Regions from separate parts of the Homo sapiens genome. Here region 2 is linked to region 1. Evidence: fine-mapped expression QTL. A gene starts in region 1. The other region holds a variant in brackets. All regions are shown on one strand. Distances are from middle to middle.

Evidence for each region. PIP is the estimated chance that this variant, and not a neighbour inherited with it, causes the effect.
Region 2: its variant is fine-mapped to the expression of EPHB2 in subcutaneous fat (GTEx, PIP above 0.99).

What each region holds. Positions count from the first base shown.
Region 1 is chr1:22,705,378-22,713,889 of GRCh38, forward strand. EPHB2 (EPH receptor B2) reads left to right here and starts at 5,462. Exons shown (of 16, transcript NM_017449.5): 1 at 5,462-5,666. The coding sequence starts at 5,606. RefSeq lists a silencer at 4,149-4,434 and an enhancer at 6,656-6,755.
Region 2 is chr1:22,799,591-22,807,590 of GRCh38, forward strand. The region is part of intron 3 of EPHB2 (EPH receptor B2); the gene reads left to right. Among named protein-coding and RNA genes, the nearest start is that of MIR4253, 60 kb to the right of the region's middle. The variant G/A (reference allele first, on the strand shown) is at 3,152.

The DNA.
Region 1 (8,512 bases):
ATAACTATTGCCGTCAGTGTCTATATCTGTGCTATCCAATAATGGTAGCCACTAGCCACCAGCCACACGTGTCTATTGAATACTTGAAATGTAGCTAGTGCAAGTTGAGCTATGCTGAAATATAAAATGCATGCTACATTGCAAAGGCTTCGTGTGAAAAAAGAATGTAAAATGGTTCATTCATTACATGCTGAAATGATAATATTTTGGATATATTGGGTTAATAAATATATTAAAATTAACTCCATCTATTTCTTTTTCTTTTTTTTAAATATGCCTACTAGAAATGGTTTAATTATATGTGGGGCTTAGATCATATTTCTATTGGACAGTGCTGGTTCATGAGCTTCATGAGGGTAGATCTGGGGCTCTCAACTCAGGCCCAGAAAGGGGAAGAGCCCTGTCTGAGGTCACACAGCCAACTGGTGACAGAACTAGAATTTGAGCCATGTCTCTGTACATTTATGCAGCCAATAGACACAGGAAAAAATGCTCATCATCACTGGCCATCAGAGAAATGCAAATCAAAACCACAATGAGATACCATCTATACCAGTTAGAATGGTGATCATTAAAAAGTCAGGAAACAACAGATGCTGGAGAGGATGTGGAGAAATAGGAACACTTTTACACCGTTGGTGGGACTGAAAACTAGTTCAACCATTGTGGAAGACAGTGTGGCGATTCCTCAAGGATCTAGAACTAGAAATACCATTTGACCCAGCGATCCCATTACTGGGTATATACCCAAAGGATTATAAATCGTGCTGCTATAAAGACACATGCACACATATGTTTATTGAGGCCCTATTCACAATAGCAAAGACTTGGAACCAACCCAAATGTCCATCAATGATAGACTGGATTAAGAAAATGTGGCACATAAACACCATGGAATACTATGCAGCCTTAAAAAAGGATGAGTTCATGTCCTTTATAGGGCCATGGATGAAGCTGGAAACCATCATTCTGAGCAAACTATCACAAGGGCAGAAAACCAAACACCGCATGTTCTCACTCATAGGTGGGAATGGAACAATGAGAACACTTGGACACAGGTGGGGAACATCACACGTCAGGGCCTGTTGTGGGGTGGGGGCAGTGGGGAGGGATAGCATTAGGAGAAATACCTAATGTAAATGACGAGTTAATGGGTGCAGCACACCAGCATGGCACATGTATACATATGTAACAAACCTGCACGTTGTGCACATGTATCCTAGAACTTAAAGCATAATAAAAAATATATATAGTAAAAAAAAAGAAATTCCCCCTGGCCTGGCACTGGCTGTAGGGATGGTTTGACCCACAAATGGCCATGTGACCCCATCAATCCTGCATCAGTCAGCAAAGCCACTGGGATGGGAGTCAGAGACTTGGGTACACCGAGAGGGGATGTCTATTCTATGTTTTCTCTGGGCTCTGCCACTCAGTGTAACATGTTTCCCCCCTTCAAGAGCCCCACTACCTTTCCCCTCAGGAAGAAGGAGCCTCAGGGAAAGCAAAGGGAGCCTAGAGCTCATTGGCATCCTCTGGTATGGCTGAGATCCTCACCAAGGTCCTGTTGCCCCCACTGAATCCACGACAAAGAGAGGGCTGAAAGTGGCCTCAGAGAAACCACCTTGGCCAATGCCCTCATTTGGCATTTGTGGCAAGTGGGGCCCAGAGACGGTGAGTACCCTGCCCAAGGTCACACAGTAAGTTAAGGGAGGGCTAGGGAGTTAAGGGAGTCAAGTTAAGGGAAGCAAGTTAAGAGAGCCCCTGGTGTCTCCATCTAGGGGCTCTAGAGGCCAGCCCAGCCCCACAGACCGGGAGGATGGTGGCATGGGTTAACACATGGGGTCCCCCAGGCCCTGCTCAGCCAAGTTCATGCTATTTCCTCTACCTCCAATCTATCCAGTCTCAACTTATAATCCTCCATGACTCCCCCATTGAGGTTAAACTACAATCCATATTCTCCCTCCCTGATGTAACCTCCTCCACGCTCCAGTTGATTGCCGTACTTCAGCTCCTATTCCCAGAGGGTACCCAGTGTGTTCCCACCTCAGGGCCTTTGCCTCTGCAGTTTCTTCCACCTGGAGCTCTCTTCCCACATGTTGGCATGGTAGACTCCTCGCTGTCCAGCTTTTAGCTGCCATGTTGCCTAAGAGGCCTTCCCTGATTCCCCTGGCCAGAGCAGCCCCCTGCCCTCCGTCAATCACTGCCCCATCACCCTGGTCATTATCTTTCTCGCACTTACCATTATCGTTATTAGCTTGTCCCTATATAGGTCTCTCTGCAGCAGAATATAGGCTCCCAGAGAGCAGGGCCTTGTCTGGCAGGTCCACAGCTGCGTCCCTGCCTCCTCAGTGCCTGGTATGCAGGAGGTGCCCAACTAATGTTTGTCAATCAACTCTGATTGAAAGAGACCTAGACAAGACAGGTCACTGAAGCCTCACTCCAGCTGCACCAAAAACAAACAAAAAACCCCAAACCTTCCACATGTCTTTGGGCAAGTGGCCCCTCTTTGGGCCCCAATTTCCCCGTCTGAAAAATGGCGTTCCCTGGCTGCCGGGCTGGCTCGCAGGATAGGCTGGTTGAATTAGCATGAGTCGAGTTGATGGGTGTGAACGCTGCTTTGTAAACTGTTAAAGCGTGATTGCAAATTCGAGTAGCTGTTGTCATTAGACAAATGAAGCTTAAACCGCCTCCTCCTCTGCTGAGGAGGGGATTGGGTCAGATGCTCCCTGGGGCCTCCTGCCCTGGCAGTGTACAGTATAGTTTTGCATCCAGGCACTGCCCTCATGGAGCTCACAGTCGGCTGGAGTTGTAGAGATAACGTGCAAATCAGAAACAATCCATCAGAGAAACCAGCAATGGACCATGTGGGGCTGATTATCTTTCAGGGAACAGATAATAGGCAAATAGGTCAGTCAGAGAGGGGTGAGGCGAATGTCAATTAAGCTCTTGGTGGGGGCTGGGGTGAGGCTGAATCCAAGTCTTTAGAGCCAAGAAGGCAACCAGGTGGAGTGCACAGCTGGGACAAAAGCACAGCTAAAGGCGGTTGCCAAGAAATCAGGGAGGAGAGCCTGGCCAGACTGCAGAACCCAGCCACCCCAAATGGGGAATAAAATACTGTTTAGAGAGAAGAGGATGTGAGAGAAGGGGAACTTAATTATGATCAGTAATTTTCTATTTTTGCCAGGTAAAGGCCCTGGATAGATGTCTATTTCATCAGATAACGTTGGGTGAGTCACTTTCCTTTTTAGGCCTCAGTTTCCTTATCTGTGAAATAGCCTGTGGGAAGAGCCCTGAGCTCTGTGCTTCTGTGAAAGGTACAAGGAGGTCAGCACTGGGGTCGGACGGACATGGGGTTGAATCCTAGCCCAATTTGCCATGTGACTTTGGACAAATTACTTATCTGGTCCTCAGTTTCATCATGTGAAAAGATCAGCACCTGGTGCACAGAGTAGGAAAGATTAAGGGGGACAAGAAATAAACAAAGCCCAGCCTAGTGCCTGGTACCATGTCCTCAATAAAGCAGAGTCACTGGTCTTCCTATTTTGAGACAAAAAGGAAGTAACCACTGGCCCTGGGTAGGTGGAGTCAAGGGTCCCAGGAAATAGAAACAAAGCAAAAAAGCTGAATCTGCACAGTACATAATAGGTGCTCAATAATGACTTCTTGAATTTGGAAGTGTCTAGCACCTGGATGCACTGGAGGGGGCCAGAGCTTAGAGCTGCTCTGTCCAGGAGAGGGAGGATTGCCTCAAGATGGGCCAAGCTTGGGGTCCCTCAAACCCTGGGTCTCCTGGAAGGTCTGACAGGCAAGAACTGAAAATAAAGGCTAGCCCCACCCCAGTGGATCTTGACCCTGGTGAGGGGTCTGTAGACTTAAAAGGGGGAATCTTCGTTTCTCCTCTCTCCCTGCTCACTCAAATAGGAACGGTAGTGGCTCTGCCAGCCCCACCCCACTGGCTCTTGACCCTGGTGAGGGGTCTGTAGGCTTAATAGGGGGAAATCTCCTGTTTCTCTTCTCTCCCTGCTCACTCCTGTTCTGTCTCCCTCCCAGGCTGCCTCCTCCTGGTGGCCTTCCAGGATGACACCCATTTCAACTGGACTCTTGGAGCTTCAAGAGACGACCCAACTTTCCAAACCTTAGATGGATTCCCAAAGCCTGTGGTACCCCATTTTCTTGGTATGGACTGAAGGGGAGGGATTGCTGGGACATTTTGATAGTATGTGGGACAAAGGGACACAGGAGATGTGGGTAGCATAGACTTAAACTGCCTTCGACTTAAACCACCTGCTCCTGCACTGGGCTCCTCCACTCACTCCACAGAGTTCCGAGCTCCTGATGAAGTCTCCTCAGTCAGGAGTGGGCTCCCAACTGCCAGGGGTTCAGCCTGGGTGATTGCCGCAGGCCCCCTGCAGCCGCCCACCATCCAGACTTCAGTAAAGTCTGTTAATGATGATGGTGATGAAGGCTGTCAGAGCAGGGCAGGGCCCACAGGGTTGGGGCTAGGGTTGTGTTCTCCCTGAAGGGACGGCCATGCACAAAACCACGGCTGCACAGACAGGTCCATTCCACAGCGTGGGGGTGGCTGGGGCTTTCCCCAGATTCACCCATGGACTTCCTTCACCCCATCCCCAAACTGCACTGGGAGCAAGATCAACAGAGAAGGAGAAATCTAATACAGACATAGACGAGTCTGCAGTGAGGGGCTCGCGGGCCAGCTCAGAACAACGGGGCAGGGAGGGGAGGCCTGGGGTCTGCCTGCAAGGGCCCAGCCCACCAGTGCCGAGTGACCACCCTCCCCCCAGCCCCACCCCAGGCCCTCGGGTAGCGCCAAGGCCCAGTCTCCCACTCGGAGGCCCCGGCCCAGCCCCGGTGCCTGGGAAAGCCGCCTGTTTTGTTCCCAGATGCCACCCCCCCACACACACCCTTTTTTTTTTTTTTCCATTCATTGCAGTTCGGTCCCTTTCGAAGCCGCAGGGACCCGGGTGGCAGGGCTGAGGCGAGGGGGTGGGACTCCCTGCCCTGACAGGTAGTGCCGGCCCCCGCTTTGGGAAGCCCCTTCCCCCGCCCTCCCCTCCGTCCGCTCTCCCTGCCCCTGTCAGCCGCGCCAGACGCTCTCCGGCTTTGCAGCATTCAATAAAAATTGAGAAACATTTGGGCTGAAATCGCTGCTTTATCTGGAGGAGCCACAGCGCCGGGAGAGACCACTGCTGCGCGGGGGGAGCCCGGGGTCTCAGTGGCCCGGGCACGCGGGGTCGCCGCGCTCCAGCGCCCGCGCTGCCCCCGGGTGACCCTACGGGCGCGGTGTGGGGACCCGGGCTCGCGGCGGCGCGCGGCCGCCGGGGGCCGGGACGCGCGCGGGGGGCGGTGGCCTGGCGAGGCTCCCCCCGCGCCCGCGGCTCAGGTGGGCCGTGCCCAGCGCTGGCGGAGCCCGGGTCCCCGTTCTGCCCGGGCTGGATGGCTCATTCTGCTGGCTGCGCGGTGGCGGCGGCTGTGTGTGCGCCGCGCCTTGCCGCCCCCCCTGGCCCCCCGAGCCCGGGGCGCGCGCTCCCGCCCGGGCCGTCCGGGCCCCGCGGCGCCGCGGCCCGAGGCCCCGGGAAGCGCAGCCATGGCTCTGCGGAGGCTGGGGGCCGCGCTGCTGCTGCTGCCGCTGCTCGCCGCCGTGGAAGGTGAGCGAGCGGGCGGGCGGGCGGGCGATGGGGGCGGGGAGCGGCCGGGCACGGGCGGCCGCCGGCGCCCACCTCCGCTCCGCGGCCCGCAAAGTTTGCCCGGGGGCCGGCGCCGGGCGCAGGTGGCCGCGGGGAGGTGTGTCCGGCCGCGCCGGGAGGAGCGGGCCCCGCGGGCGCCCGGGGAGCGGCGGGCGCTGATTGACTGTGCCAGGAGGAGGCGAAGGGACCATCTTGCCGAGGCTTTGTAGCCAGCCCGGCGAGCGCCGCCCAGGGCTGGGGGCTGCCCACGCGCGCTCGCCGCCCCCGGCTCGGGCAGCCGCCTCGCGCCGGCCTGGTCTTGCTCCGCACAGGGTGGAGGGGCGCGGGCCCGGCCGTGGCGGGGGGCGGGGGGGGCGCCGGCGCTCGGTCGGGGCTGGAAAGTTTGGCAGGGAGCAGAGGGAGGGAGGCACCGCGGCCGGCCGGGGTGGGGGCTCCCGGCCCGCGCCCCCGAGATGGGGCCCGGCGCCCCGGAGAGCAGGGACTGGCAGAGTGGAAGGGAGCGCGCCAGCCCCCGCGTCGGTGCCTGCCCATCGCCCGCGGCGTACAATGGGGTCCCCTCCCCGAGAGGACTGCGCGGGGGATGGGTCTGTGGGCATCTCTCCGCCGCGCAAGGTCTCCGGGCACCCCCGCCGGCCACCGCCCCGCGGCCGCGGCGCTCAGCGTGGCGGCTGGAGCCCCGGGAACTCTCCAGCTGCCGCCGGGGCCGGACCAGATGCTCTTGCCATGTGTTGGCCTTGGCCAGGGTCGCGGGCCCTCTCCCCGTGGCCTCGTGTATTGGTACCACTCGACCCCCAGGGGGGCAAGGGTAGTTGCTAGGTCTCCCGAGCCAGCTTGCTCTGGAGGGAAAGTTAGTGCGGTCTGGGTGTGTCCACCAGGAATGGCCGAGCTTGCAGGGCAAGAAGCGAACGTGAATAATGGTTCTCACGTGTACTGCACTTTACAGTTTTCAAACCACTTTACAGTTTATGAAGTACTTCGCACTATACGCAGCTCTCTGTGGTTTACAACGTGCTGCACAGTTGACAAGGTACTTTAAGCTTTACAAAGTGCTTTCCCGCCCACCAGCGTGTTGGATCCCTCAAAATACACCTTCCGGGGAAGACAGGTAGGTATGATTCCTACTTCTCTTGAACAGATAGGGAAACCGAGGTTCTGAAAAGTCCGATGTCTCACCCAGGGCCGTTGGGTGACAAAAATAGAACCCAGGTCTGTGGTCTTTCTTTGAAACCAGCACTCACTTAGCTGGGTTTTGTTGCCCCTAAACTGCGTGAGCCCTTCCAGGGTTCTGCTCCCTTGGGCTTAGGGATGATGTCTGTGTGCACCTCTCAGGCCACTTTAGGGTTGTGGGGCGCCCCTTCCCTTCTTGCAGCCTAAGAAAAAACGCATATCAGACCAGACGTGGGGGCTGCGGCCTCTGGGAAAGGCGTCGTGGGGGACCCTGTGCTACAACTTCAGTTTCTCTTTCGGTAATGAGCACTTTAGTGACCGCAGTCAGGGGGTGGGGGGTGTCCCTGGATGGCAGCCACAGTTTCTGGCACTGAGGCAGCTGTCCTTCGGCTCCTGGGGGATTTGGCGGCTGACTGCGGTTTCCCGGAGTGGGGCCACTGGGGCACCTAGGGTGCCACGGGCCCTGGGTGTGGAGGGCAGCCCTGGGGCCTGGCTGCTGGCGGGAGCTCTGTGGAATATGGCTGAGGTACCACTTATTAACTCTGGCTTTGGGGAAATGACTCATGCGTTGGCCCGCTATACATTGGGATGTTTACAGTATTATGGGGAGCTTGGCATAAATATTGCTATTTAGGTTGCAGTCAGCGGTGCTGGAGGGGAAGAAAATTGGCCCCTCTCTCGTTGGAAGAGGCCTGGGTGTGTTTTTAATTACTCTGGGGTAGATGGAAGGGCCACATCTGTCCAGCCATCGCCCTGGCAGAGGCTGGTTGGAATCTGGTGGGCTGTGGCCAGCCTGGACCCTGGCCCTGGACACAGGGCTGGTGGGCGCTGACGTCACAGGAGGGTATGGCTACTTGGACTGCCACTTGGGGGCAGGGTGGGGAAGGGAAGCCACAGCAGGGTGGGAGGAGGGCTGCAGCAGGCACCCCAATGCTTGCCTCAGGCTCTTGTTCCGTTTGCCCCCTGGACACTAGGAAGTTAGTCCATCAGTGGTTAATAAGGAGCTGGCCGAATGGATGGGGAGATGGTGTGAGGTGGAGGTCAGAGGGCCTGCTTCTCATTTACTATGGGACCCTGGGCCAGGTCCCTTCCCTGTGGGGGCCTCAGTTTCTCTGGGTGTAAAATGGCCTGGCTAAATATCTTGTAGAGTCCATCGTCTACGCCCTACTTCCCCTCTTTGAGCCTCGTTTTCCTCCCCCGTCTAGTGAGAGTGATGACAGCGCCTGTCCTGCCTGTCTCCTGGGGTGTTTGTGAGGATCAGACCAGATGATGGGTGGGAGAAGTCCCCCTTCAAAGCCAGGGATGGACGGTGCTGCCTGTGCACATTTGGGGGGCGGTGCTGCCTGTGCACATTTGGGAGACACCAGGGTCCTCCTGAGGGTGACACAGTCTGTGGAGACAGGACTGGGCCGTGGAGCAGTAGGAGGGTGGCCCCTCTGGCTCCCAGAACCCAGAGCCACATGGCTACCACTTCCTTCCCTTCCTCCTTCCTTGTCTCCTCAGCCCGTAAAGGGCTGTCCTGCCGGTTAAGTCCCCAGGAAATCCCCAGCTCCAGCCTTCGGAATGGGGGAGAGGAGAGTGTGTGTGTATACGGGGGGTTTCTAGGTTAGGACGGTAAGCTTAGCATCTCCCCCAAACTG
Region 2 (8,000 bases), 94 kb after region 1:
GGCCCCTGCGATCTAAATGCTCGAAGTCATGACCATCCCCTTTTGCAGATGAGGGAACTGGGGTTCAGAGAAGCCAAGTGACTTGCTCCAGTCCACACAGCAAGTAAGTGGTTGTCACTGAACACAGGTCGTTTGGTGGAGCAGGAGGTATGACCTGGGTGAGGCTTAGGGGCCATGCAGAGCTATGTCTGTCGCTGTGTCCCCAGCAAATTTTGGGCCCAGAGCCTCATGGCAGCCTTAGAGAGAAAAGATTCCGCCCTGGGGTCTTTGCAGGCCTGACCTGGGACCTGTCAGGGTTATACTGGCTCCTTCTAGGAAACCAGCCTCAAGTTCCCAGTTCCCTCCCTTAAAGGCATTGCCATCTGATTAGCAACATTTTAAAGACCTAAGAGTGGTCACTGGCGTGTCTGTGCTGCCTGGGCAGGCCATGCAGCTTTGAGAGCCCCACATCCGTATCCCTGGCAACCCTGGCCCTGAGCTGCCCTCCCCCACACCCTGCTGTCAGAGCTGTCTGTCTGTGGGAGCTCCCCGGAGACCCGGGAGGGATGTGCACGCATGTGCTGGGTCAGCACAGAGCGTCCCTGTACGCATGCGTGTGCGCTGGGCCTGCTGGGAGTTGTTTGTGTGCCCATACGTGCACTAGCGTACCCACTGAGCCAGCCTCTGCACATGCTGTTGGAACGTCTCGGATCTATGGGCATGTACGTACATTTCAGGGGCGGGCTGCGCACAGAGCTTGCCTGTGTGGGTGACACTGGAGCCTGCTGGGAGCCATTCCTCTCCCTGTATTGGTGTGTTCCTGTGTCTGCCTGACCTGCCCCAGCATATGTGTGCAGGGAGGAGCACACTCATGAGTGTGCTGGATCAAAGCACACACCTAAGAATGTGTGGGTGCAGCCGTGGAGGGAGGTCCCCATCTGTGTGTACACGCCACTGCTGTTGAGTACGCTCACTGGGTCATGCAGGTGTGTGTTTGCATGGGTGCCCACCCACTCACAGGGAAATCAGCCAGAGTATTCAGATTCATGTGTACATCTGTATATTTTATCAAGCCAGATGTACGTGAAAATGGGTACTTGTTAGCATATGTGAGCCCTATCTGTGTGAGTATATGTGTGTGTGTGTGTGTGTGTGCACGCACATGGCTGGATCAATTTGTGGAGTGTGTGCGTGTGTATGTGACACACACACACACACACACACACACTCTCTCTCTCTTTCTGGGGACCAAGATATGTCAGGGCCATTGATTTTCTGTCTCTTAGAAATTCCCTTTGAGGTCCTATTCATGCCTCTTTCATGAAGCAAAATCAGTGGTTCCAGTGTTCTTAAAGCAAACCAGGCCTGTTTTGCGCAACGCTCCATCCCTGGCCCGCCCATCTCCTCCACCGGTTGTGCCTGCACACACACATATACCCACAGGACCTGCTTGTCGTGCTCAGGTGGGCACAGCAGCCCTGCAGGGGTACAGGGGGCAGGCTCCCTGGCCAGACTCTGCTGCTTTCTAGCTGTATGGCCTTGGCCATTTCCCGTCATTTCCTGAGCCTCGGGTTCCTCCTCTGCCCGATAGGCACAGGGTGGTGGTGAAGATGTGAGTGGTGAAGCCCCTGCCAAGGCTGGAGGTTCTCTCTCATCTGTCCCGGCTGTTACGTTTACGAAGCACTTTCATCTGGGGAGAGAGGCTTGTGTCTGTCCTCGCCAGGCCAGCAGAGGAGCTTTGGGAAGGGACACCCATGAATGCCCCCCTTCCTGTGGGCCCTCTGCTCCAAGCATTTTGCTGACATCCCTTCATTTTTATCCCAGCCACCGCCCTGGGTGGCAGCTGGTGTTATCCGCCTTCCACAGAGGGGAAACCGAGCCCCAGAGAACTGCAAGGGCTTTGTCGAACTTCACCGAGAGCAGGTGGCAAGCCAGGATTGGGACCCAGGTCCAGTGGACTCCGGAACCTTCCCACCGCATTCCAAGAACGCTTCCTCCAGCAAGCAGGAGTGAGAGGCCAGGCCTTAGAGGATGCCCAGACCCCACACGAGGGGATGGCCTACAGGCCCAAGGCACCATGTGGGCAGAGGTGCAGCATAGGGAAACTCCAGCCTAGAGGAAATAGGCCCTCAGCCTCTGTCACTTGCCTTGGGCTCTCCCATCCCATCCCCTTCCCCCTCCAGATGGGCAGCCCCTCGTGGGGTCCCCTCCCGCCCCCTCGTGCTGCAGTCTTTGTGGCCCAGGAAGAATGCCTCTCTTTATCTCCCAGACGCCCCTTCCCTTTGATTCTCCTCTACCCAGCGTTTCTGCTGACCTCTGCGTGTTGGGAATCCAATTAGAGGAGCGGACAGGGAGAGTGACAGCCGCGCCGAATCCCGCCTCAGCCCCTCCGAGCACGCTCAGCCAAGCTGCAAGCAGCGCGGGGCCTGCTTGTCATGCTGGGCCCTGCGCAGGGCTTTGTGGGGATTAGCTGCTGGGGGGTGGGGTGCTCGCAGATGGGACCAGAAGTGATGCTGGTGAATGTCACGTCCAGGCAGAGAGTGGAGGAGGGGGCCCGCCCAGTGTTGAATCCAGCTTGGGGAAGAGAAGAGAAGGGGGCTAGGGGGCAGACTAGCCTGGCCTATAGGAGGCCCATGGGGGAAATGATGGCCCAGTTGGGTTATTTGGTTCCCCATTTGAGGGTTGGAGGGTAGAGCTGGCAGCCAAGCTCAGCTGTGTCTACAGTGGAGTGGGCACCAGAAGGATTTCCACCTGGGAGGGGCTTTGGGGGATTGATTGGATTGCAGGGGTGGGTATTGACTCTTCATTTGCAAAACACTTTATGTATGATGGAGGTGGGGACCCTAAGAATGGGGAGGTGGCAGGCTTTGAGAGATGTGTCTAGAGAATCTGCCACCACCAGCCACCCCTTGGCAGGGCCACCAGTCTAAGGCCAAAGACTATGCCCTTCCCCAGCCAGCACCATGAAAGTTACCCTTCTGGTTTACAGCTGTGGAAACTGAGGCTCCGAGAGGAGAAAGGTCTGGCTCGAGGACACAAGGGTAGTCCGTAGCAGAGATGTCTCATCCCCCTGTCCACCCGCACCACCCAGCCCCACCCCCAACTCCCTGGACCTCCTGAGTGATGAGAGTCCCTGATGCCCTTCCCCACAGAGGGATATGGCATCTGAGGA[G/A]GTGGATTTCAGGCCCTCAGGGGAAGCAGTATCAGGTAGAATATGGTCTGACTCTCAGCTCACGGACCAGCAAATGCCCCTGCCCCTCTAGAAATGTGTCAGGCCTTGTGCTGGGCCAGAACACAGTGGGATCTGCCATGGCCTCTGCCCCCAGGAGCCCACAGTGGACAGAGACAAGGAGCCCCTGGTGCACAGAGAGGGTGGAGTGTGTGCATGGAGCAGTAAGGACTATGGGGACCCACTGGGGAGACTAGGACTAGGATGTGGGGATGGGACCACCCTGAGCCTGGGAGTCCCAGAGGCCTTTCTAGAGGAAGGGCCACCAGCACAGAGACCTGGAGGACAAGCAAGAAATAGCCTGAGGAGGCTCTGGCTATCCTAACCTGAGAGGCAGGGTAGTTGTGGGGCTTCTAGGGGAAGGGCATCTCCTGTCCCTCAAATCTTTGTGCTCATTCCATAGCTGCCTGGGCCGGGCAGGACTGACCCACCTCCCACCCGCTGCCCTAGTGAGGCTGCACAGCTGCAGCCGCTGTGGAGTTGGCAGCCACTGGATGTTCAGGATCTTCTGTAAGAATCGTGGTTAGGCCGGGCACAGTGGCACACACCTGTAATCTCAGCACTTTGGGAGGCTGAAGCTGGAGGATCACTTGAGCCCAGGGGTTCAAGACTAGCCTGGGCAACATGGTGAAACCCCATCTCTACAAAAAAATTAAAAATTAGCCAGGTGTGGTGGTACGCACTTGTAGTCCCAGCTACTAGGGAGGCTGAGGTGGGAGGATCACTTGGGCCAGGAGGTCCAAGCTGCCGTGAGCCATGATCTCACCACTGCACTCTAACCTGGGCAATAGAGTGAGACCCTGTCTCAAAAAAAAATAATATATATATATATGTGTATATATATGTGTATATATATATATGTGTATATATATGTGTGTATATATGTATATATATGTGTGTATATATATGTATATGTGTATATATATGTATATGTGTGTGTGTGTGTATATATATATATATATAAATTAGCTGGGGTGTGACGATGCATGTTTGTGGTTCCAGCTACTAGGGAGGCTGAGGTGGGAAGATCACTTGAGCCTAGGGGTTCTAGGCTGCAGTGAGCTGTGATTGCACCAGTGCACTCCAGCCTGGGCAACAGAGTGAGACCCTGTCTCAAGAGAAAAAAAAAAAGTGTTTAGAGATAGTGGTTAGGAGGCCACAGTGCCACAAGCCAACCTTAGAGATCTGGAATTTCTGTGGTGGTGCTAGGCACATTCCATACACATCTTCACCAATCCCTGGGAGCAGGAGTTGCCCACCCCGTCTTACAAGTGAGAAAACAGGTTCCAAGAGGCAGAAGGGCTTGTGCGGTCTCACAGAGCACATTAATGGAACTGCCTTTTACACTCAGGACCGCATTAGACCTTTCCCACCATCCCAGGCTGCCGCGGCCAGTGTAGGAATGAGCTTATTGGGTTGGCTGGTTTGGTCCTCCTGCCCAGCACTGTGCCTGCCACACAGGAGGTGCTTAGTGGGTGGGGGATGGATGCATGGATGGAGAAAACCAATCAATCAATCAATCAATTCTTCCTTACCTAGTGCCTTTAAGGAAAAAATCTGCACCACCCCCCATCCTGCCAGCGAAGGCTGTATTAAATATGAATTAATCTTTCAGCTCAGTTCTCATGAATATAAAATGCAGAGGGTGTGTGAAGCCAAGAGATCAAGACGAGACACCCCAGTCTGCCTGGGCCTGAAAGCGCACGCTCACACCCACTCACACTTGGAAGTGCATTCTCACAGTCATGCAGACTCACTCACAGTCCTCAGCCACCCTCCTTAGCCCCTCTAGGAACCTCCCCGCCCCACCCTGCCCTGCTCAGTTGGGCCCCTTCCAGGTCAGGCTTCTCTGGGCCACCACTGGCCCAGCTCTTTCCCATCCCACACCCTTCCCGCCCCTCCCAGCTCTCTGAACTTGACTCTTCCCTCCCACCTGCCTCTTCTCTCCTTCCTCCCCTTGTCTCTTTGCCCCCGCCTCTGTCCCCTGCTCCTTCAGTGTCCTCTTGTCTTCCTTTTCCTTGTCTTAGTCTCTCCATCTCCCCTCCTCTCTGTTTCTCTCTCTCCCTCCCCTGCCTCCCCACTTGTCTCTCTCCCCGTCTCTCTAGCTCCCTCCCCATTTCCTTCTCTAAGGGGACCACTTGCCTGTGCCTGGACATGCCAGGGACCCTGGGCAAATTGTGGGCTAGAGAGTGAATCCTCCCTCCTCAACCCAGACACATTGGGGTCAGGACATGCCCCCCAACCTCCCCCTCTAGCAAGGGGCACAGGTACCTACATACCAGGGCCACACCTTGCCCCCTCTCCTTGCCCCCACCACCTCCCAGGGCTGGCATCCTGCAGGTACGGGATGAGCCATGCACCCGGAGTCCACACCAGACATCTGTCAAATCCATGTCCCACAGGGGGCCTGGCCTGTTGATTCTGAAGGACTTCAGAAAATGGATTCTAAAGGGACAGAAGTGTGTCCTGGTTCGAGGTGACCCCATTTGTGTGTCTCTGAGCCGTACGCAGTCTCTCTCAGCCTCAGTTTCCCCCCCAGGCCCTTGAATAAATTAAACGAGGGGCTGCCAGCCCAGAGTGGGCTGAGATAAATGTCTCCTGACCTCCTGTGGTACTCCCCAAGGTGAACATTCCAGACCTGCCACTCCCCTGTGGCCTGACTCAGGCCCTCCCTTTCAGGAGCTGACCTCCCTCCCACTGCCTGAGGACTCTGGCACAGGATGCTCTCACCCTCTGCCCCTCTCCCCACCTCTCTACAACCACCCAGTCCAGACAGCTGGGCTGGAGGGGATCAGAGACTGTGAGCAGCCACCTCCCACCCATCCTGGACCCAGGGTCAGCAAGGAGCGGGTGGGGGTGCAAAGGCTGTGATTCTTTTGGGTGGGAATGGGGGTGAGGGTGAGAATCAGGCAGGTGCATGTACATGTGTGTATGAGAGAGAGAGAGAGATTGGGAGGGAGAGGGAGCTCACTAGCGCATATGTGCCTGCCAGGGGGGCTGCAGATGTGTCTGAGGGTGAGCCTGGTGAAAGAGAAGACAAAAGAATGGAATGAGCTAAAGCAGCCGCCTGGGGTGGGAGGCCGAGCCCATTTGTATGCAGCAGGGGGCAGGAGCCCAGCAAGGGAGCCTCCATTCCCAGGACTCTGGAGGGAGCTGAGACCATCCATGCCCGCAGAGCCCTCCCTCACACTCCATCCTGTCCAGCCCTAATTGTGCAGGTGGGGAAACTGAGGCTGGGAAGTCACATAGCAAGTGACTGGCAGAGCTGGGACTGGAACCCAACCAGCCTCCTAGACCACGGTTCTTCCCATCAATGGAATGCTAGAGACTCCAGCCAGGTACAAAGTTGGATAAATGAAAGAATGAATAATAGCCATTGATGTTTGTAAAGTGCACAGGGCAAACACTTTATAACTCAGTAATCACCCCCCTTTTACAGGTGGAAAAACTGAGGTGCACAGAAGTGATGTAACTTGCCCAAGTTTATACAGCTAATAAGTGGCAGAGCCAGGATTCAAGCCAGCAGGTTCCAGAGTCTGTGCTCACTGTACCTCTTAGAATACCAAGTCCTTGAACCGCAGGAATTGCCACATTTCTGTGCCCCCGGCTCTGAGCACTGGCTAGGCACATAGCAAATGCTCAACAGTGCTTGCTGAGTCAATGAGTGGATGGATGGATGGACGGACGGACGGACGGACGGACGGACGGATGGATGGATGGATGGATGGATGGATGGGAAAGGAGTTCACCATGAGGATGGCTTCCCAGGCCCCAGGATCCCAGCTTCTCAGCACAGTAAGGTCCTACTGCGTGTGCTTGGCTCCTGCCGCCCCTATTCCCACCCCCGCCAGGCAGGTGTTAGCTGTGCCCTCCACAGGGCCAGGCCCCACAGGGACAAAGCCGAGGGCGCGCCTGGGCGGCCCAGCGCCTGCATAGGCTGAAGCTGCTAACAGGCTGGAAATCTCTTTTGTCAAAGCCTGCACTGCCTCCAACCTCCTTTAATTAAAGACAATTAGTGCTTTCAGCCCCTCTGCACAGCTCAGCTCCCCTGTTTGCAAACACACAGCTGCGGGAGCTTTGTGGGCCCCCCCTCGTCACCACCCCCCAGCCCTACTTCCCCAGAGACACACAGAGGTGCCTTTATTATCAGCACTCCGGCTGCAGCACCAAGAGGCAGGCGCCTCTGCTTAAAGGAAGGATGGGAACGCTTCCCAGCTAGGCGGGGGAGCAGGAATAGTTGAGGACCCTGGGGTGGCCTGGCACATGTGGGCCATGGGTCCCACGCTTCGAGGAACAGCCACTTGGGGCACCTCTGAGGGACCTGTCACCTCCCCTTCTCCCCTTCTGTCTCCTCTGCTCCTCTGGGCCTGCTTCCTGGAATTTGGGCTGTCCACATGTTTTCTCCCAGAATCTTGTCTCTGACTTGGGCACTGTAGGGTGTAGATGCTGGCCCTGAGTACTACCTTAGGAAGGAAGGAAAAGGGAGAAATGGCTTTTATTGAGCACCTGCTGTATGTTAGGGCGCTTGCTAGACTCTGGCTCTACACACCATCATTCTGAAATATCCCCATTTTATAGATGGAGCTGCCAAGGCGCTCAGAACGGCTTGGTGACTTGGTCAGGCATGACAAGGACATAGCAGAACCAGCATTTAAGGTCAAGCTTTCTGGCCTGAGCATACTGGTTGGATCTACGCATATGAGGAGCCCAGCCTCCTAGAAGTCAAAAGGTCAGCTGGTCCAGCTCCCTCCCAGCCTCTACCCCCATGGTCTGAGCATGTGCCATGTGTACT